Linked DNA regions of Homo sapiens: all the other regions are linked to region 2. A link means that fine-mapping ties the variant in region 2 to the expression of a gene that starts in the linked region. Tissue or cell type: whole blood. Region 2 holds a variant in brackets; each other region holds the start of a gene. Each region is shown on its reference strand, or each on the opposite one. Region 1 holds the start of FGR (FGR proto-oncogene, Src family tyrosine kinase). Region 2 overlaps IKZF1 (IKAROS family zinc finger 1). Region 3 holds the start of LINC00656 (long intergenic non-protein coding RNA 656). Region 4 holds the start of C4BPA (complement component 4 binding protein alpha). Region 5 holds the start of CDH26 (cadherin 26).

Region 1 (4,149 bases), not on the chromosome of region 2:
GAGACGAGATGTCCTGGAATTCTGGTCCCTACTGTTGGCCCTGCAGGTTGCCAACTCCCAAACCTCCATCTTCCCATCTGTGAAGTGGGAACAGGGTCCTGCTCTCCCATCATCACCACAGTCGGAAGGATGCCAAGGACATCAGGGCCCCTGAGAGTACACACCCGAGGGGCGGCCAACTGGATGCAGCACCAGAGAGGGTGTGAGACAGATTTTAACTCTGCTGACCTCCCCAGTATGGGCTCTCATCAGAGCCATAAACTATTTAGACGCCAACTGTGTGCTGGTCCCTGGAGGCCCTGTCAGTGAGAGCCGGGCAGTCTGGTCCCCCTCCATGCTTTTTGTTGTTGTTGTTGTTTACAGACAAAATCTCACTCTCTCATCCAGGAGCTCTCACTGCAGCCTTGAACTCGTGGGCTCCAGCGATCCTCCGGCCTCAGCCTCTGGAGTAGCTGGGACTACAGCAGGTGCCACCACTTCCAGCCTTCTGGCTAACTATATTTTTTTGTAGAGACAGGACGGGGGTCTCCCTGTGCTGCCCAGGCTGGCCTCCTCTGCATGTTTTTGAGAAGGTGAAGGGGAGGCTCGCTGAGTCAGGGATAGCCCTTAACCCTTCAGGACACTCAGCAAAAACTGCTTTCTGCACCTGATTCTCGTGGGGGAAGAGTGGACACAAGGATCATTTCTCACCATAGTTCAGATGAGGAAAGTGAGGCCCAGAGAAGCCCTGTAACTTGCCCACAGTCACACAGCAATTAAGGGCCCAGTCTTGCTAAGAACCCAGGTCTCTCAAACAGCAGATCCTCCACCCCAGGATCCCTGAACACAGCGGCATCGCCTCCTACCTCGGTCGGGAAGCCCACCCCCCACCCACCAGACCGAGGATTCCAAAAGGGGGCGAAGGCGGAGAGCAAAGGGGGCTGCGCCCACCCGGAGCCCCGCGGCGGCCCAGCGCGGCCCGCCCTCTCGTTGCCTTGGAGGCAGCCCCTGCGGGCACTCGCGGTCAAAGGCAGGATTTCCGTCGGGGCGGCAGCAATTCCCGGATCCAGCGGGGAGCGCGGGCCGAGACCGCCGCGGGCGCGGAGGGGGCGCCCGGAGAGGCCTGTCCCTGCCGAGGGCGGGGACTTCCCCAGGAAGCGGGGACCCACGCCTCGCGCGCCCGGCAGGAGTCCCCTGCAGCCCGGAACCTACCGCAAGGGCGGGCCGAGAGGGTCGCGGGGCCGCGGTCGCGGCCGCTAACGTTACCCTGCGGGCTGTGGGCTTCACCCCGACTTCGGCCGGCTCGGAAGAGGGGAACTTCCTGGACCCGCAATTGCACCCCAGGTTCTCCGTCCTCCAGAAGTCGTTCTCCTCAACCCCCTTCCCGCCAGCTCCCTCTCCTGTTCCCTCCAGCACCCCCACCCATTTCCCCTCTCCTGGACCCATCAGACCCGTCGGCTTCTCCCCAAAGTCCCACTCTCACGATCCCTTCAGTTTCTCCCCCAGACCGTCCTGGGGATTCCCCTTAATCCTTCTCCCCCACCTCAGCCCCCTTCCTAAACTCTTATCAGTCCCCTCCATTTTACCCACTAGACCTTTTTGGGGGTCCCTTTGGTCGGCTTCCCCCGTGCTCCCCTCCGCCCTCTCCTCCAGGTTTATCAGCCTTGCTTTTCAGGTCGCCCGTTTTCCTCCTTAGGCCTTTTCGGGCTGGGGTCCCTTTGGCTGTCACCTTGCTCATGTGTCCCCCGACCCCCAGGTTCAGGCTTCTCTTCCCGTGTACCCCCAGTCCTCTCTCCAGAGCCTCGAGGGGGAGGGCACTGCTTGACCTGCCCAGTCCCCACCCGACGCTGTCGCTTACCTGGAGCCCAATTCTGCCCGGCCCCGGGGTGAGCCAGCCGGGGCTCCAGCAGCCGCGAGTGCCGGCGTGCGGGGAGAACTGGGGTGCTGCCCGCCTCTGACCGCCGCCCCTGCTGGGCAGGGAGGAGGAAGCCGCCTCGGACTTCTCTTATTGCAGTCACGGCCGGCGGGCGGTGATGGTGGCAGGGAGACAGTCACGCCCTAGCCCCAAGCCAGCTCCCCGCAGCGAGGAGGCGCCCCCAGATCCTAGGCCCACCCGCCCCCACCTTCCTCCTCCCTGGTTTACGGGAGGTCGGCTCTGTCACCCTCCAGACCTGAGTCCCCAGCCCGGCCTTCCCAAAAGCCCCCTCCAAAAGCGCAGTTTCAGCACCCCCGAAGCACCTGCTCTTTTAGGATCATTGAATTGGAGGTTAAGAGGGGCTTTTCTCCATCACTGAGGACCAGATCGGGACTGGCCTTACTCGAGTTCTCACAGCCAGTTGACTTCAGACTGCTGTCACCAGAGCCACTGGACATGGATCACATGGACCCTGTCAGCACGCCTTCCCTTCCTCAGGGGCTGAGCACTGGGGACACAGGGCTGTTAAGGGTGGTGAGCAGCAGAAGACCCTTCCCTTAGGAAACTGCCTTTCAGAGGAGTGGGAAGGGTGTCAGCCTCCCCCAGGCACCCAAGTTTTAGAAAAACTGAGTAACTGGCTGGGGGCAGTGGCTCAGCCTGTAATCCCAGCACTTTGGGAGGTTGGGTGGGAGGATTGCTTGAGCCCAGGAATTCCAGACCAGCCTAGGCAGCATAGGGAGACACCATCTCTACCAAAAAAAATTTTTCTTAAGTTAGCTCGGTGTGGTGGTGTGCACCTGTGGTCCCAGCTACTGCAGAGGCAGAGGTGGAAGGATCCCTCGAGTCAGGCAGGTCGAGGCTGCAGTGAGCTGTGATTGAGCTACTGCACTCTACCTTGGGTGACAGAGCAAGACCCTGCCTTAAAAAAAAAAAACACAAAAAAAGAATGTGGGTTTTGTTGCAGAAAATGACTTTTTTTAAAAAAAAGAAAGAAAAGGCCGGGTGCAGCGGCTCACGCCTGTAATCCCAGCACTTTGGGAGGCCGAGGCGGGTGGATCACGATGTTAGGAGATCAAGACCGTCCTGGCTAACACAGTGAAAGCCCATCTCTACTAAAAATCAAAAAATTAGCCGGGCGTGGTGGCGGGCGCCTGTAGTCTCAGCTACTCAGGAGGCTGAGGCAGGAGAATGGTGTGAACCCGGGAGGCGGAGCTTGCAGTGAGCCGAGATGGCGCCACTGCACTCCAGCCTGGGCGACAGAGCGAGACTCCGTCTCAAGAAAAAAAAAAAAAAAAAAAAAAAGGAAGAAAAACTGAGTATCTTAGAACATGTGGAAAAAGATTTTTAAAAACAAAAAGAGAAACGGTAGCATCCTCTATCAGTTCCAGTCTCTCTGTCTGATAGGGATCCCTGACCCCTCCTCAATCTGGGGTTCAGTCCCCACTCCCACCACTGTTACTTCAGCCTTAAAGCAAGAACCCGGAATATCCCTCCTGTCCAGGAGAGGAAGAGGTGTGGTGGGGAGGGCTGTTTGGTGGAGAAGGATGTGTCTGTTGGGATGTGGTGAGAGGCAGGGAGAGTGTGCGTAAACACAGAAGTGTGTGTGTGTGTGTGTGTGTGTGAGAGAGAGAGAGAGAGAGAAAGCAATGACATGATGACTTTGCTTTTGGAATCAACAACTAGGCCATGGTGTGCAGGCAAGTGTGTTTCTTTGTATGGGCAGGGGCATGTGGGGATGTGTGTGTGCATGCGTACACATGCTCAAGTGTGGCCCAATGTGCCTGGGGTAACAGAGTGGTGGGATGGAGATAAGAATGCTTTTCTCTTAGGAAATGGGAGGAGGGATGAGGAGGAAGACAGAGGAGCCAGTGGCAGTGCAGGGTCTCTGGAAGAGTGGCTTCACCCTAGCCGGGCAGCATCACCTCCGCCATCAAATGCTCCCTGCCTGGCCATCGGCCCACATGTTCAATTAGCAAACAAGCAAACGTTTATAATTGTGTCTTAGGTGCCAGCCTTAGGGAACACAGAGATGAGAGACTGGTCCCTGCTCTTGGGGGATCCCCCCAATCTATCATGCTCGCTCTGTCATCCTTCAAGGTCTGACTCACAAGCATCTGCTCTAGAGGCCTTCCCTGATTGCTGCCTCTACCCACTCCACACCCCCAGCAGAACCTCAGCATCTTCTGCCTGGGGCACCACTGGTTCCTGGGGGATGGGTGTGTGGGATATGTTTTCCTCAAGGGCAGGGGTCTGGC
Region 2 (4,000 bases):
TAGTCCCAGCTACTCGGGAGGCTGAGGCAGGAGAATGGCGTGAACCCGGCAGGCGGAGCTTGCAGTGAGCCGAGATTGCGCCACTGCACTCCAGCCTGGATGACAGAGCCAGACTCCATCTCAAAAAAAAAAAAAAAAAAGAAAAAGTAAAGAAAACATATTTTGTATGTTTTTTATGTGTCTTAGAAACCAAGTGGACTAGGTATAATGGTTCTTTTTTTTTTTAACTCAGCAGCACAGTTAATGGCACAAACAGATAAAGATGGTGGCTAAAGCCATTTGGTGTAGATGAATCCAGAAAACAAGTACATTTATGAATTATTTTACCCTATTGGAAAATGGCTACTATATGTGGAAAGTAGAGGGGAAGAGAAATGAACTTGTGAATTATCTACTCTATTCTACCAAAGAAAGATACATATATCATTTCAGGGTTTTCCAAAGTTGGGATGCAAAGGATCATGTTTCATTTTAATTTATGTATTTATTTTTGAGATTGTCTTCTATGTATTGCAAGTGATACTGGTTTTACCATGCACTGTACCACTACGAGGGTTCCTTTCAAAACACATTCATATAAATTAAAAAATCAGTTTAAATAAAAACATCAAGTCAATAGTAGTACATAGATATGATAAAAGTTTGCAAAAGTGGCACAGGAATAGTCATTGGGTGGTGATGTTCCCTGATTTTTTTAGTCCCTGAAGCACCCAGCGCCAAGGGTACTGTTCTTCCTGCTTAACACAGGAGCAAACAGATGCTCACACCCTGCCCAAGAACACAGAGGCTCAGGGACTGAACCAGAAGAAATGATCCATTAACCATGTAAATGAACAGAGAGCCTGGATGTCAGAGTGAGGAGGCCAGCTCGGGTCGCTGTGGAGAAAGAGATGGGCTCTCCCTGGAATCCCTGCAGCTGCCCTTAGAGGCTGTGAGCCATCGTGGCTAGGGCATCTTTAGAGAACTGAAAGTCAGGCCGATTCCTGGAGAGTGAAGAATAGCACACGTGCCTTCAAAACAGTGTCAGTATCCTGTCCCTTACGGACGTCATATTGTTGGTGGGTTTTCCTGGGTGGGAGATCACCCAGTATCTGGTTGGCATTACTGATGGGTTCCCAGAGCTGTCTTTTGGTTCAAAGTCCTGCCCTCGGTCCCAGCTGCCCCCAGCACAGGTGTCACCTTGGAGTCAGGGGCGGGTTTGTCATAGCCCATGGGTCCTGGCCCTGCCCTTTATCATGTTTGACATGATTTTCAGTCTACTTTTCCTTCAGGATGTAATTTAGAAAATATGATTTCAGAATTGTGAAATTTAAAAACCCTAGAAAACCTCTTTGCTTTGCTTGTAAATAGCAGTTGATGCAGCCCTGTGGACAGGCGGGAACAGCCATGTGACGTGGGCACTGAGATGATTTGGGAGATTGAATGCTCCTCAGTGGGGCTAGAGGCCACAGGAGTGATAGGTTACTGTAAAGAAAGCAAAAAAGATGCAAAAGCCTACATGACAAACCAGGCACGACACAAAGGAGAGGCTTGAGAAGAGGAAGTGAAGGAGGGAGAGGATTCCACAAGACCGAAGTGCCCAAGGAGACATGGAGGGAAGAGAGGGCTCTTCACAGAGCTGAGTTTAGAGACCACCCTCCATGGTTCTGGAAGGAAACCAGCCAGCTTTCATATGTGGTGACAGGCTGTTCATTAATTTGTAGTGTA[C/T]AGCATTAAATAAATGAAGTATGTAGAGAACATTAGGAAACAATATAAAAAGGTAGGGGAATTCGTGGATAAAGGGAATAACCTGGGTACCATATTTCATCACATTATTCCATGGGAATAAGTCATCAGTGCAAAGGACTGTAAGGAGTGCACAGCAGGAAATGAAAAGACAGAAGCAGTGGGGCCGAGAGGAGGAAATGGAGTTGCTGAAATGCAGGGTGAGCAGCAGGGGCGGAGAGTGCCCTGTGGGTAAGGCACACCTCAGAAGGGACAGGTCCAGGCCCTCTCCTCCCTGGCCTGGAGCTTCTGGCAAGGCTTTTCTTCTCTGAGCCTCACTTTCCTCTTTTGAAGGTGGCAATAGTAACTGAACCTGCATCACAGAATGGCCTTGAGGGTTAGATGGAACATATATAGACATAATTTGTTGAAGACAGAGTAGCAAAGACACAAAGTAAAAAGGACAGAAAAAAGAAATGCAACTTGTGCAAAATAGAACTTTCAAAGATTTACAAGAAGGGTAAATGAAGCTATCGTAGCTTCACTTGGGAAAAGGGAGAGAACAGATGACCAGCACCAAGGATAGAAGAGGGATTTCTTACTTTAAAAAAAATGGTCCAAAGAATAAACAAACTGAAAACAGCCAAAAGAGAAAGGAAGAATTTGTTAGAATAGGGCAAGACTAAAGGACAGAGTAAGGGTGCTGGCCGCCACCTGACTCAAGTTCAAGTCGAGCTGCCACTGTTGAAATTTCAAGGAGAAATGGTGAGAAGCTAAAAGATGCAAAAAAAAAAAAAAAGTGGGAAATTATTTGCTAATAATAGATTGCAAGAGTGTCTGCTTTAGAAAGTGACAAGGAACACTTTTGGAAAGCTGTGAGCTGTTATGACCACTGGCATCCTTCAGTTTTAGACAAATCTAATCTCAACAAGGATAACAGACCATATTAATAAACAAATTGATGGGAATGGTGGAAATCAGTTCCCTATGAGGAGGGTGCAAAGTTATACTGATTGGTGAGTCACTCCCAGAATAAACAAATAATGGTTTCACACCTCATTGCTTCATTCAGTGTGGAAGGAACATTCTAGGTTTGTGTGTAAGTTTGGGGAGAAGGAGACAGAGCCAGAGGGCAGAGCAGCCCTGCAGCCCTCAGTTGGCCTCCATTTTCTTCCCGGTCTGAAGAAAATGAAACAAAGGATTTAAAGTGTTGCTTGAAGAATTTAAGTTAGACTTAAAGGAGAGATGTGGTCTTTACTCTCCTTTTGGCAAGGAGAGTTTAGTCATCAGAATGGTCTATTTAGTGAGACTGTAGCTTGTTCTTCTGAAGTGGTCTTTTTAAAAACTAGAGAACTCTCACCTCTCTGAAGTGGTTGTGTATGAAACTGTTTAAAGCCGAGGATGCACTCAGTGACCTCTTCAGGCAACCCCAGATTTACTCAGTCAGCCATGGCACACATGCTAGAGAAGTAAAAAAATGAATTGAGACTTGTTCTGAAAACTCTTGAGCAGGGGCTCTTAAAAGTTTTTTGTTTAGGAATTATGTCAGGGTTGGGGTCTGGAGAGCAGATAAGTGTTTTGTGTGAGAAAAGTAAAAACTTAGTTATTTTCTTCCCGTATTCAGTAATCCTTGCATTTTTTTCCTCCTCCTTTATACATACATTTTTGCCAGTTACTGACTTCTCTCTTGTACACATTTCCGTGTCCTAAATTAACCAAGAGTCCTCAGCCACTAGGATTCTATTGACAAGCCCACAGGTCTGGAGGTGTGAGTAAGGGCATTCCTCCCCCATGAAATCAGGCAGCAGGGGAGGCGTTTGGGTGGGTGGAACAGAGGAGCAAAAGACCAGAGGACAGAGAAGAAAGATTGCAGGCTAGAAAACGGGATGGCCACCCCTGAGAAAGAGGACAAGCAAATTTAGGGCTTAGAGTAGAATTGAAGAAAAAACCCAGGGCAGAGGCACAGGAATGCTGTAGGACTGAACTGGGACCATGATTGATGTAAGTGGAGATGGGTTGGTTGAATCCGTGGAAGGCCAAAGGATTGAGGCCCATATGGGCCTGGGACAGGGCTTACTAAATGACTTGCTACCTGGCTTGATAATCGGGACAACCTCAGGCAGTAGTTATTCAGGCGGGAGGACACATGAGTTTGAATATAGGGAGATAAGGTATATTTCTATATGCCCTGGTACATTCCAGAATGTGCTTCTCTGGCTCTGTGCACTGGAGCAGCCAACTCCTGAAGTTGGGAGGGGATCGCCATGGTTTCATGAGTGGTTTATTTCAGCTTGCA
Region 3 (4,149 bases), not on the chromosome of region 2:
CATGGGGCCTAAAAATGCTGGGAATGAGAGTCACATCGGAGGACCCTCCACAGCCCCCGGCACTCATCCAGGCAGTGATGCCTCCAGTTCACACCCTGGGTGGGGGGCAAATGTTAGTATCGACCTCCCTGAAAAGTAGCAAGGAAGGCTTTTTTCTTTTTTTTGCCAAAACTTGCATAAGACTTAGAAAGTTCCAAATGGCTCTTCTTGCTTATCCAGCGCTTTTGGCTGCCTGTGACACACTGTCCCTGAAGCACCAAAATTTCATAAGAGCTGAGGATAAAACCCAAAGAGGGCCACTCTCCAAGTCACCCAACATCCCAGACTTCACACTTCACAGGGTGAAAAGAATGTAGTCTTCTAAACATGATGCAAAGGTGTTAGCAAACTCAGAAGGTCTAAGTCACAGCAAGATTTTCTTTTATTCCACTTCCCTGCCAAGGATTTCAGTGGAACAAAATAAACCAGACCTCCAAACAGCACGACTAAGTGTGAAAGATTCAGTTATCTTTAGGTTTCTTCAAGCAGTATTTGGCAAGCCGCTGTTTTTGGATCACGTATTTTCCACAATAAGTCAATAGATATTCCATTCAAAAAAAGAAGCAAAATGAGTTTGAATGTTTTGTCAAATTATGCTTGAGCATAGCTGTATACTTACCCTGGCTTGGCAATTAAAATATTTATTAGCATATTAAATTCACAAACAACTATAAATAAAGAAACCTGGTTTACTTAAAAGCAGTGTTGTCCATTGGAAAACATGGCATCATGCTATGGATTGAGTGCCCTGTGTAATCCGTAGAGAGCTCACTCTGGATGACTTAAGCTATATTTGAGCACTCTGATTTTCCGTATCTTGATCCAGATGTTTGACATCTCAAGAGGCATGGAGGCCTGGTGTGGTGGTTCAGGCCTGTCATCCCAGCAATGTGGGAGGCTGAGGCAGGAGAATGGCTTGAGCCCAGCAGTTTTAGACCAGCCTAGGCAACAACCTGAGATCCCAACTCTACAAAAAATAAAAAAAATCAGCCAGGCGTGGTGCATGTGCCTGTGGTCCCAGCTACACAGGAGGCTGAGGTGGGAGGATCGTTTGATTCTAGGAGGCTGAGGCTGCAATAAGCCATGTTTGCACCACTGCACTCCAGCCTGGGTAACAGAGGGAGACCCTATCTTTAAAAAAAATTATAATGAAAAATAAAAAAATAATTTAAAAAAGGGCATGGTGTAGCCTGTGCTACTGAAGGGTCCTTTATCTCTGTCAGCCATTCCTAAAGTCCACTAGAGAATAACAAAATATTCTTTTTCCACCAATTGGTATTTATTTCTGTGATAACTGAAGAATTCCGCCACACAAGCATCACCCGGGTCAGCTGCCACAGACAGTGACCATATTTGTGAGGCTTACATGGTGACCAGGAGCTTAAATTGACCTCAGACCTCAAGAATCTCCTGATAATCTGACCACGATTAAAACGTGGCCCACAATCCTTTCAGCACGTGAAATGACTGGCCAGGCTTTCCAAGAATCCCAAAGACTTCAGCCCAAACAAGAAGCTGACCTCTTAGACCAGCAGCAGATCATCCTACCGCGGCCCTTTTCCTTATTTGTTAAGGCCCCGCTTCTTGTCATTATATCGTCAGCACGATTATTCGGTGTGTTTTCTGGTTGTGTGGTTTATGCACTATTTATTTCCTGATTCTTATCTTTTTCTCCAAGAATAGCAGCACAGACATCAAGTCAATTTCAGCATGGATTTATTCTGCCTGGAAGGTGGGTCCCAGTCACACTAGTACAGAGGTGACAAAATCATGTGTGTCCAGCAACTAAGTCCGCAACGCAGTCCCATTTAGTCCTCAGGGAGCTCATATGGCAGAAGGACTTGTTTCCCAGGAGAGGGCCGGGGCCTGGAGCAGGCTGATGGATTGCTCCTCCAGCAGCTGCAGAACTGGGCCTAGGACCGGGGCTCACTCTACCACTCATCTGCCCCGTCTCCATTAGCACCTAGCCTCAGAACAGCATTTATGAAGCACTTACCACACATACCCAGGAAAGGCTCGTGTTCTGCAGTGGTTACCTTACAATTCAGAATGAACTTTGAACAAATCCCTGAAGACAACGAGGCTGGCCGTGGATGTGCAGCTGCCTTGCGCCTTAGTGTGTCATCTGTAAAATGAGGTAATAGCAACGTATGTCTCATGGGTTACTACTGTCAGAGTCAAATGAGGTAATTGTAGGTAACGCCCTTTGCACAGTGTCAGGCACACCATGAGAGCTGGAAAAGCGTTGGCTTTTAACATTCCTCTTATTCTTCCTTTCTGTTTTCTGAATTTCTGGGTTTCATATCGAAGTGTGAAGAGGGATGAGTTTCAAAGGAGGTAGAGAGTCCCTTAAGCTAAAGGTTTTCCTTTGGAGGGCTGGGGGCCAAGAACACGAGAACCTTCTCTATCTGCAGGGCCTGGTCTTGCTTCCACATTGTGGAACCAAGGGCCAGCAGAGAAAGATAGAGACTAACCCCAGCCCCAGGCCCCAGAGGTGGGGGCTCCAGGATCACAAAGACCCCAGCTTGGCTCCGCCTCTCTCTTTCTCAATGCATGAGCAGCAGCACTGAGGGGACTGGGGCTTCCTGGAATTTTAAAAAGGGTTTTTCTAACAATTCCTGGAACTGTGAAGTCAGTGGGGAAGGTCATGGGTGGAGTGAGGTCATGGGCCTAGCTCCAGAAGTGTGCCGACAGATAAGGCGCCTTGGTCTGGGGCTCTCCAGCCTCTAACGCCCAGATGGCTTCCCTCTGGGGCTGCAAAGTTTACAGGAGAGACCAGATGATGGCACTGACAATGGAGGGTGGGTCTCCTCTACACTTCCCACCCCAATAGCTGCCTTTGCCCTAGAGGGGCCCAGACACATTCGTTGGCAGTAAAAGCTTCACCCTCCAGAGCAGAAGGGGAGGCCCACAGGCTTCTCCCTGAACTTCATCATCCCAGTGGATGCAGGGTCGGGGTATTTAGGGCTCTTTTCTAAGGAGCTGCATTAGGATCTCGGCACATTTTTTTCTTTGTTAATTTTGTTTATCTATCAATTCAACTTATTTGGGCTAAGGCCAGAAAAAGATTAGCTGGGATTTAGGGAGCATCCGTATCAGTTTATTGTGACTGTATTATGTAGGCGTCATTGATACGATGCAAACTCACTTTAAATGCCAACAGGCATCAGCAGGTGGAGATAGTAAGGTTAGCGCCCTTCACTAGAAGGCACAGACACTGGTTAGGGAGGGAGGAAGGCAGAGCCAGCAGCCAGCTCCTGTGGTGCCGGTTATCAACCGGTTATCAGATGGGTGCTGTGAGCAACTGATCTCCCTGGCTATGAGTCTGTTCTGGAAAACTGCGGCCTAACCAAGGCTGTCCCGGGCTCTTCCAGCTGCTCAGAGGGAGGGTCCTAAGATCTTACAGACATAGCTAGGTCATGCTTCCCATGTCAATCAGGGCAAACAGAACACACTAACAGTGAACAAGTCCAAGAGGGGATTAAGAAAACAATTCTATTTACAACAGCATCAAAAAGAATAAACATTTGGAAATAAAATTCACCAGCAAGGAGAAAGACTTGGACACCAAAACATTAAAAAAATACCGGCCGGGCGCGGTGGCTCACGCCTGTAATCCCAGCACTTTGGGAGGCCGAGGTGGGCAGATCACAAGGTCAGGAGATCGAGACCACGGTGAAGCCCCGTCTCTACTAAAAATCCAAAAAAATTAGCTGGGCGCGGTGGCGGGCGCCTGTAGTCCCAGCTACTCGGGAGGCTGAGGCCAGAGAATGGCGTGAACCCGGGAGGCGGAGCTTGCAGTGAGCCGAGATCACATCACTGCACTCCAGCCTGGGCGACAGAGTGAGACTCTGTCTCAAAAAAAAAAAAGACCAATGAAATAAATTAAAGAAGAAATAAAGAAATTAAAAGATTTCCTTTGTTCATGAATTGGAAGACTTAATATTGATAATGTGTCAAAACTAACAAGAGTGATCTACAGATGCAATGCAATCTCTATCAAAATCCCAAAGGGATTTGCTGCAGAAATAGCAGGATTCATCCTAAAATTCATATGGAATTTTAAGGGGCCCTGGAGAGCCAAACAATCTTGAGAAAAAAAGAACAAAG
Region 4 (4,149 bases), not on the chromosome of region 2:
GGAACTTGCACATAGCCTGGACTGGCCTAGATGAAGCATGGAAATTGGTGAGAGAGAAGGTGGCTGGAAAGATAAGTCAAAGCCAGTTTATGGAGGCTTTTGAATGACGTGCTAGAGAATATACACTTGTTTTTGGTAGGCAGAGAATATACATTTGTTTTTTGGCAGTCAGACCATGAAGACATGGAAGCCTTGCAAACAATGAAGTAATAAGGACAGAACATAAAGAAAGATTTCTCTCACAATGTTGGTTGTAGTATTGGTTGATGAGGGAAAAGAACTAAGAGAAACCAACGAAAGGACTCCTACAATAGTCCATATGGGAGGCATTATCAACCTGAACTGGTTTGGTGGCAGCAGAAATGAAAAAGCAGCAGCAGACACGAGAGATATTGAAAACTTGTATCAAAACAACCTGTCAACTAATCAAACATTGAAGGGTGAGGGAGAGGAAGAGTTCAAAAGTGAATCTGAAATTTTATTCCCGAGAACCAGAGGTCAGAAAAAGCTGGGGTCAGAAAGTGAAGCTTGTTGGCCGGAAATGAGAAATTCCTCTTTGGATGTGCTGAGGGTGAAGTGCTTGCAAGATGTCCAGTGGGGGGAAAAAAAAAACAAAACCTAAGAAAGTAAGTCTTGAGTTTCGGAGAGTAATCAGAAATAATAATGTAGTGCTGGCTAGTCTTCTTACTGGTAATAGTTAAAGCTGTGACAGAAGGCAAGATCATTAAAATTGCGAAGATAATTTTTTTAAAAAAAGAAGAGCCTGAGATATATCTATATTTAGGAATGAGAAGGAGGAAGAGAAGGTAACAGTAACTAAGAAAGAGAAATTAGTTAAGTTAAGGGAATCAGGTAAGTTTAGTGTCATGGAAGCCAAAGGAGAAGAGAGTTTCAGAAAGGAAATGATCAGCAGTGACAAAGGCTGCAGACAGATCCTAAGAAATGAATTAAAGATATTTTGGACTTGGACCTAAGGGCGTGCCTCAGAGAGACATGTCAGTAGAAGAGTGGTAGAAGCCAGATGGGAAAGCAACAGGTGGAGTGATGAATGAGAAAGAACAGGCAGGTAGAACAAGTCACACCTTTGAGAAGTTCAGCATCACACTAAAGAAGAAAGGTGGAATTTGAGGTATTGGCAAAATTGAAGGGACATTTCAGGATGAGAGATGCATTGAAAATGAGGCAGGAAAAGAAGAAACAATTCTCCTCGGAATGAGGAGTGAATAGGAGGGAAAATTTGACATTGATGAAGCTAAGGTAGAATGATTTTTAGTAAAGTAGGAGGTAAGAGCATCTGCTGAGAGGGAATGTGACAATTTGGTGACCTGGAGAGAAAAATCTGCAAGAGTCACTGTGGAAAGTAAACGAAAGGACTTCAATACATTGGAAAACGGTACTTTAAAGAAATAGCAGCTTTAAAGGTGATATTTCTTCCAATTTAGTCTCAAGACTGTGCAATCTGGAATCCTCCTCTATCTTCATTCTGGTCAAATCAGTGTCTCACCTTGGTGACCTAGCGCATGGTTTCTTTACATCTAATATCCTTACCACTTTTATCTAATAATTTCTACCTTTTATCCAAATCTCACATCTTCTGTAGAAACTTCCTTGATTAACTCAACCTGTTGTAGTTTAGTTCCTTTTCTGAAACTCTTCTGGGACTTTCAGTATTTATTACAGAAAAAGTGAAGTTCTCAGAAAGAATTGCCTTTTAATAGCAATCTTCTGAGCACACAAATCTTAACCTTGAGGATTAGTAGCTTAATTGGACTATGTAAGTGCTTGTGGTCTTTTTAGATCTATGCGAGAGGAAACATGGCCGGTCCTTCATTGCGTTCTTCTGAGCGCACTGGATAGATCAATTTTTGGAGGCCCTCTGGTGCCTGACATGTAGTAGCAGTTAACATTTGCTGAACTCCAAATACGTTCTAGATAACTCAGCACATAGTGGAAACCCAATGCATGTTTGATAAATTCCCCACCTTTTGTAATTCCTTGGGGTGGGATAGAGACGAGCTCTGGGCAAGAATATCAGTTTTCAAACTCCAGGAAAGCATACTGGACCTAGTGTCATGGAAAGTGGATCATTTTTGCGGAGGCTCTCTGAACCTCGCAGTATCCAAGGTTTCCAGGCTAGCTGGACTGTGTCTTGCCATAACCCTTATGTGTTTATGAAAAGAAAAAAGAATTCTGGCTTCAAATTCAAATTACCTTTCCACTTAGGGGAAATGGTTGGCAGAGGAGAAAATAAACGATTGCGACATGTTACGAAGAATGAGGACTAGCAAAGAGGAAGGAGCTTAGGTAAACAGTGCTGCTTTATTTCTGCTGTTAATCATTCATTGGGCCCGTCAAAAGTTTCTGCCCATCTATTTCCATCAACCGTCCTTGACCAGCCAACCACATGGCTGAAATTCAGGGACTCTTTGGTGGAGCAATTACCAGTCAACTTCAGGGTATTATGATAAACTCTGATCTGGGGAGGAACCAGGACTACATAGATCAAGGCAGTTTTCTTCTTTGAGAAACTATCCCAGATATCATCATAGAGTCTTCTGCTCTTCCTCAACTACCAAAGGTCGGTGGACTACTAAACCCTTGGGGAAGCTTGGAGGAAAGGCTGGTGGTTTGGCCCTTTAAGGAGTGCAGGATTAGAAGGATAAAACAGAGACAAAAGCTTGGAGGTGTTTTCAGCAGAAATCTTTTCAGGAGCACTGTATTAGGGGGATGTAAGACTTGAGACGTACTTTAAACCCTATCTGAACCTCAAGTTTTAAAAATTATAAATGGAGGAATAATATTGCATTCTAATAAAATAAGCTAAAGAAGAAGAGGTGTAAGGTGTTGCTCTTGTTACTGTATCTAAAAGACAGATGTGTTGGTTTGTTGATCTTTCACCACCTTCCCACATCAGAGTTGAGGCAAGGGGTCAATCAGACTTTTCAAAGGGTTCACAGGAAGCTTGCTTTTCTTAGTCTACATTCTGAAAACTGGGGCCATTTCTATTTTGAGATTTGATTAACCACTCCAAATCTCCTCCACCACTGACAGCAAAGATGTTTAGATTTGGTAATAAGGAGGACACTGGCCAGCCTCCAGTTGGTTTCTGAAGCTAGCAGTCTTAGTCGTCCTCATCTTCTTTACTTTCTGAATTTGACGATGCTGATAACCCTTCCTTCTTGAAATTCTCTTCTTCCTTGGTTGGCCAGGATACAGTACCATTCTGGTCCTCATTTTAATTCTTCAACCACTTGTCTCTTTGCTGATTCCTATTCTATCTCTAAATATGGTAACACCAAAAGAATAAAAAGTAGACTACAGAAGAGGCAGAAGCATCAAAGAAGGTTGGCATTAAGCTTAGAGATATGTTTGAATGTAGTATGAGCACAGAATAAAGGGGCTGATAGAAAAATAAAGAGATTTGGCCAGGTACGGTGGCTCACTCCTGTAATCCCAGCACTTTGGGAGGCCGAGGCTGGCGGATCACCTGAGGTCGGGAGTTCGAGACCAGCCTGACCAACATGGAGAACCCCTGTCTCTACTAAAATTACAAAATTAGCCAGGCATGGTGGCACATGTCTGTAATCCCAGCTACTTGGGAGGCTGAGGCAGGAGGATCATTTGAACCAGGGAGGCAGAGGTTGGGGTGAGCTGAGATCGTGCCATTGCACTCTAGTCTGGGCAACAAGAGTGAAACTCCACCTCAAAAAAAAAAAAAAAAGAAAAAAAAAAGAGATTCTAGGAAGGGTGGGGAAAGTGTGGGAGCCAGTTCTTTCTGGAGTTTGTAAGTGATATAATTGAGAGCCCAGGTATAAGGAAGAAGACACTCAGCCCGAGACTGGAGAAAAATACTATCCTTTCACAAGGTATCTGCATTTTAAAAGGGGGAAGTTAGACAAAATAAATATTAACTTAAAAAGTAACTTCTCATGGAAGGAGAAATTTGAGGACTAAAGATTTTTCCAGTGACTCTCAAATTGCACTGCATTGCTAAGTGCTGATATTATTTTTCACAAGGGACCCGCCATGCTGACTAAAGTTCTTGAGTTGGTTCCATTTCTGCAGGAATTTAAAAGGTGAAGTCCTTGAAATATGAAAGTTGGCTAGAGTAGTCTCAGCTTTTCAGTGAGCAGTTACAGAATTGCAGAA
Region 5 (4,149 bases), not on the chromosome of region 2:
CAGTGGAGATTTGTGAGATCCTGGTGCACCCATCACCCAAGCAGTATACACTGCACCATATTTGTTGTCTTTTATCCCTCACCCTCTTCCCACTCTTCCCCCCAATTCCCCAAAGTCCATTGTATGATTCTTATGCCTTTGTGTCCTCATAGCTTAGCTCCCACAAATCAGTGAGAATATACAATGTTTGATTTTCCATTCCTGAGTTACTTCATTTAGAATAATAGTCTCCAATCTCATCCAGGTCACTGCAAATGCTGTTAATTCATTCCTTTTTATGGCTGAGTAGTATTCCATCATATATATCTGTATATACACATATATATACATATATATGTGTATATATATGTGTATGTATATATATACATATATGTGTGTATATATGTGTATGTATATATATACATATATGTGTGTATATATGTATGTATATATGTGTATATATGTACATACACATATATACACATATATGTGTATATATACATATATGCGTGTATATATGTACATACACATATATACACACATATATGTGTATATATGTACATACACATATATACACGCATATATGTGTATATATACATATAGATACGCATATACACATTTTCTTTATCCACTAGTTGATTGATGGGCATTTGGGTTGGTTCCACGATTTTGCAATTGTGAATTTTGCTGCTATAAACGTGCATGTGCAAGTATCTTTTTCGAATAATGACTTCTTTTCCTCTGGGAAGATACCCAGTAGTGGGATTGCTGGATCAAATGGTAGTTCTACTTTTGTTCTTTAAGGAATCTCCACACTGTTTTCCATAGCAGCTGTACTATGTTATATTCCCCCCAGCAGTGTAGAAGTGTTCCCTGATTGTCACATCCACACCAACGTCTACTGTTTTTTGATTTTTTGATTATGGTCATTCTTGCAGGAGTAAGGTGGTATCGCACTGCGGTTTTGATTTGCGTTTTGCTGATCATTGGTGATGTTGAGCATTTTTTCATATGCTTGTTGACCATTTGTATATCTTCTTTTGAGAATTGTCTATTCATGTCCTTATCCCACTTTTTGATGGGATTGTTTTTTTCTTACTGATTTGTTGGAGTTCATTGTGGATTCTGGATATTAATCCTTTGTCAGATGTATAGATTGTGAAGATTTTCTCCCACTCTGTGGGTTGTCTGTTTACTCTGCTGACTGTTCCTTTTGCAGTGCAAAAGCTCTTTAGTTTAATTAGGTCCCAGCTATTTATCTTTGATTTTATTGCATTTGCTTTTTGGTTCTTGGTCATGAAATCCTTGCCTAAGCCAATATCTAGAACAAGCAAAGAAAGTTTACCTTTTATTTTATCTGTTTACTACTTTAAACAAGGTAATGTGATAAAAAGGTCATGTTAAGGTAATCAGGGTTAATGTATCACAGATTGTGTTTTAAAACTTGCTTACTGCAACCTTAAGTATTGGTATAATATAATCTCAAATTGTCTCTTTCAGAATTCTCATGCAAAGACTCCCGGGTTGCCACAGAGATCCCTGTCCATAGGGAGGCTCTTTCCCATCTCTCCTCCCTCCCACTTTAATTCCAAACTCAAAAAGGCAGATTAATCTAAGCTTAAAAAAGGTTTTAGTAGAAATAATTTGAAAACCCCAGAGCCCTGGGATATTGTTGGAATAACGATTTTTAGTGCTTTGGAAAGTAAAAGTTGATTTTTCTTTTCTTTCATTCTTCCCCATCCCTTCCCCCTTAATAAAGTTATCATTCTTGTCATTTTCTAGTTTTTTTTGTTTGGTTCAAGAGGATAAGATTATAGAAAATAGTCACTAACATATCCTGCTATAGAAAGAGATGATTGGACCTTCTATTTGGAAACCAGAACAAACAAGGAAACAAAGAAACAAATAATTCTGCTTTCCGATAGGTGCTGGTTTTACTTCCGCTGGCTGAGCTGTTGTTCCTGAGGTCAGACCCCAGCCAGTCTTTTGTGTACGTGCAGGACCATGGTGGCTTTAGTTTCTACCCCACCCTTCCTAGGAACTCTACTTGTGGCAAACGTATGTTCAAGCTTACAAGTCAGCCCACCCCACTCTGATAAATGCAAGAAAAGCTGAAAAGGGAGGAGCAAGATGGGATGAAAGCATCTGGGCCAAAGTGACCTGAAAACCTTTAGAGAAGAAGCTGCTGGCTGAGAAGGAGGTGTGTGGCTCCGGTGAGACCACCAGCTTGGAGGACTGGTCATCAGCTGCACGTTCTGGGTCTGTCTTGGGTATTCCCATATGGCCATGAGATCCGGGAGGCACCCCTCGCTGCTGCTGCTTCTAGTGCTGCTGCTGTGGCTGCTGCAGGTAAGCTGAGCCTGCAGCCTAGTGCTCAGGTGCAGGGAACTGAAAGCAAAGCACAAGCTGGCCCTGCCCCTTCTAGGCTAAGGGAGGGGAGAGGGACTGAGTGTGACCTGCTGGGACCCAGGGCTGGCTGTCTTGAGAATGGCTTAGGTAGCAGGGGCTCTGGATTTATATAAAGGGAAGTTAAGGGTCCCAGTCTGTTTGGGGCAACAGTGGGAGCAGGCTAAGGGACCTGTTTAAAACTAATTTATATAGTTCACACTATTTTTAGTGAGATTACATCAACACACACGTGTTTTCTTTCTTTGTTTCTTTCTCCTTTTGTTGAGACAGGGTCTGGCTTCATCATCCAGGCTGGAGTGCAGTGGCATGATCAAGGCTCACTGCAGCTTTAACCTCCCAGGCTCAGGTGATCCTTCCACCTCAGCCTCAAGAGTAGCTGGGACTACAGTAACTTACCACCACGCTGGCTAATTTCTGTATTTTTTATAGAGATGGATTTTCACCATGTTGCCCAGGCTGGTCTCGAACTCCTAAGCTCAAGTGATTTATTCGCCTTGCCCTTCCGAAGTGTTGGGTTTACAGGCATGAGCCACCTCACCCAGCCAACACACACAATTTTTTTTTTTTTTTGAGACAGGGTCTCGTCATCCAGGCTACAGTGCGTGGTGACATCTCAGTGCACCGCAACCTCCTCCTACTGGGTTCAAGCAACCTCCTGGCTCAGCCTCCCGAGTACTGGGACTACAGGTGCACGCCACCATGCCCGGCTAGTTTTTGTATTTTTATTAGAGACAGGGTTTCACCATGTTGGCCAGGCTGGTCTCAAACTCCTGACCTCAAGTGATCTGCCTGCCTCAGCCTCCCAAAGTGTTAGGATGACAGGCTTGAGACACTGCGCCCTGCCAAGTTTTATAATGATACTTCTGTTCACACTTTACATAAGATTGAGGAAATCTCAGTTGTCTGGATCCAAGGCAATTTGAGCAAACCCATGGGGATGGAATGGCTAAATCCATTGCCCCCAACTGCCACTGTTTAAATGGGAATACAAACTAGTGGAGTCAGGATTCGAAACACATGGGCTTGCTCTGTTTGTACTTAGAGTGGACAGAGGTAATGTTGCATGCGCTTGTTGGTTATGATCTGCTTCGTTGGCTTTCTGTAGGTAGGGAGAGGGAATCATTTCTTCCTTTGAATACCAGCTGAGGGTGGGAAGCAGCCCAGTGGCTGGTAACTGTGAGCTCTGGACTGGGCTGCTTGGCGTCCTGACCTAGGCTCCTTCACAGCCCGCTGGGGACCTAGGCCAGCTTAACTTTGTTCCTTACCTTGGATCAAGTTGAACTTACCTAGGGAGCTTCAAGGGATCTCAGTGCCTGGGTTTTGCCCCCAAAGGTTCAGGTTGAGCTGACCTGGGAGTGCACTGGGTGTCAGTGCACTGGTTTTAACATAACCTTGTTAAGCCTATTTTTCTTCACCTGAAAATGGAGCTAGTAACTGAATTTATCTGAGCCAGTGGTTGTACCAGTGAATGAGGAAATGCGTAAAAGCCCTTGGTACTGCGAAAGTTGTCAGAATCAGAATGGAGTTCCTTATGTTAAAACACACACACACACACACACACACACAGGCACAAAGCCTGATATATAGACACAAAGAAGGTTATGAAAAGGGGGTTCTCACATTTGTAGGCTTGATAACTAAAACTATCACAAAAGCTCTGCAAAAATAACAACTTTGCACAAAGGCCGTTAAAACCTTACACAAAAAATACTTTTTCGAAGAAATCTTCCCAGCAACTTTTTGTGCAAACTCAGACCAGTG

The links. PIP is the estimated chance that this variant, and not a neighbour inherited with it, causes the effect. A credible set is the group of variants that fine-mapping cannot tell apart.
Region 1: it holds the start of FGR, and the variant in region 2 is the best candidate, but not a certain one, in a credible set for the expression of FGR in whole blood (TOPMed, PIP 0.60).
Region 3: it holds the start of LINC00656, and the variant in region 2 is the best candidate, but not a certain one, in a credible set for the expression of LINC00656 in whole blood (TOPMed, PIP 0.83).
Region 4: C4BPA starts here. The variant in region 2 is the best candidate, but not a certain one, in a credible set for the expression of C4BPA in whole blood (TOPMed, PIP 0.53).
Region 5: it holds the start of CDH26, and the variant in region 2 is the best candidate, but not a certain one, in a credible set for the expression of CDH26 in whole blood (TOPMed, PIP 0.83).

The regions. Positions count from the first base shown.
Region 1 is chr1:27,633,228-27,637,376 of GRCh38, forward strand. It overlaps FGR (FGR proto-oncogene, Src family tyrosine kinase), which reads right to left and starts at 1,958. Exons shown (of 13, transcript NM_005248.3): 1 at 1,838-1,958. RefSeq lists a silencer at 1,034-1,083 and an enhancer at 4,082-4,141.
Region 2 is chr7:50,328,951-50,332,950 of GRCh38, forward strand. All of the region lies in intron 3 of IKZF1 (IKAROS family zinc finger 1), which reads left to right. Among named protein-coding and RNA genes, the nearest start is that of IKZF1, 26 kb to the left of the region's middle. The variant C/T (reference allele first, on the strand shown) is at 1,708.
Region 3 is chr20:23,130,464-23,134,612 of GRCh38, forward strand. It overlaps LINC00656 (long intergenic non-protein coding RNA 656), which reads right to left and starts at 2,173. Exons shown (of 4, transcript NR_034149.1): 1 at 2,036-2,173.
Region 4 is chr1:207,101,853-207,106,001 of GRCh38, forward strand. C4BPA (complement component 4 binding protein alpha) reads left to right here and starts at 2,381. Exons shown (of 12, transcript NM_000715.4): 1 at 2,381-2,578.
Region 5 is chr20:59,956,468-59,960,616 of GRCh38, forward strand. CDH26 (cadherin 26) reads left to right here and starts at 1,956. Exons shown (of 18, transcript NM_177980.4): 1 at 1,956-2,328. The coding sequence starts at 2,260.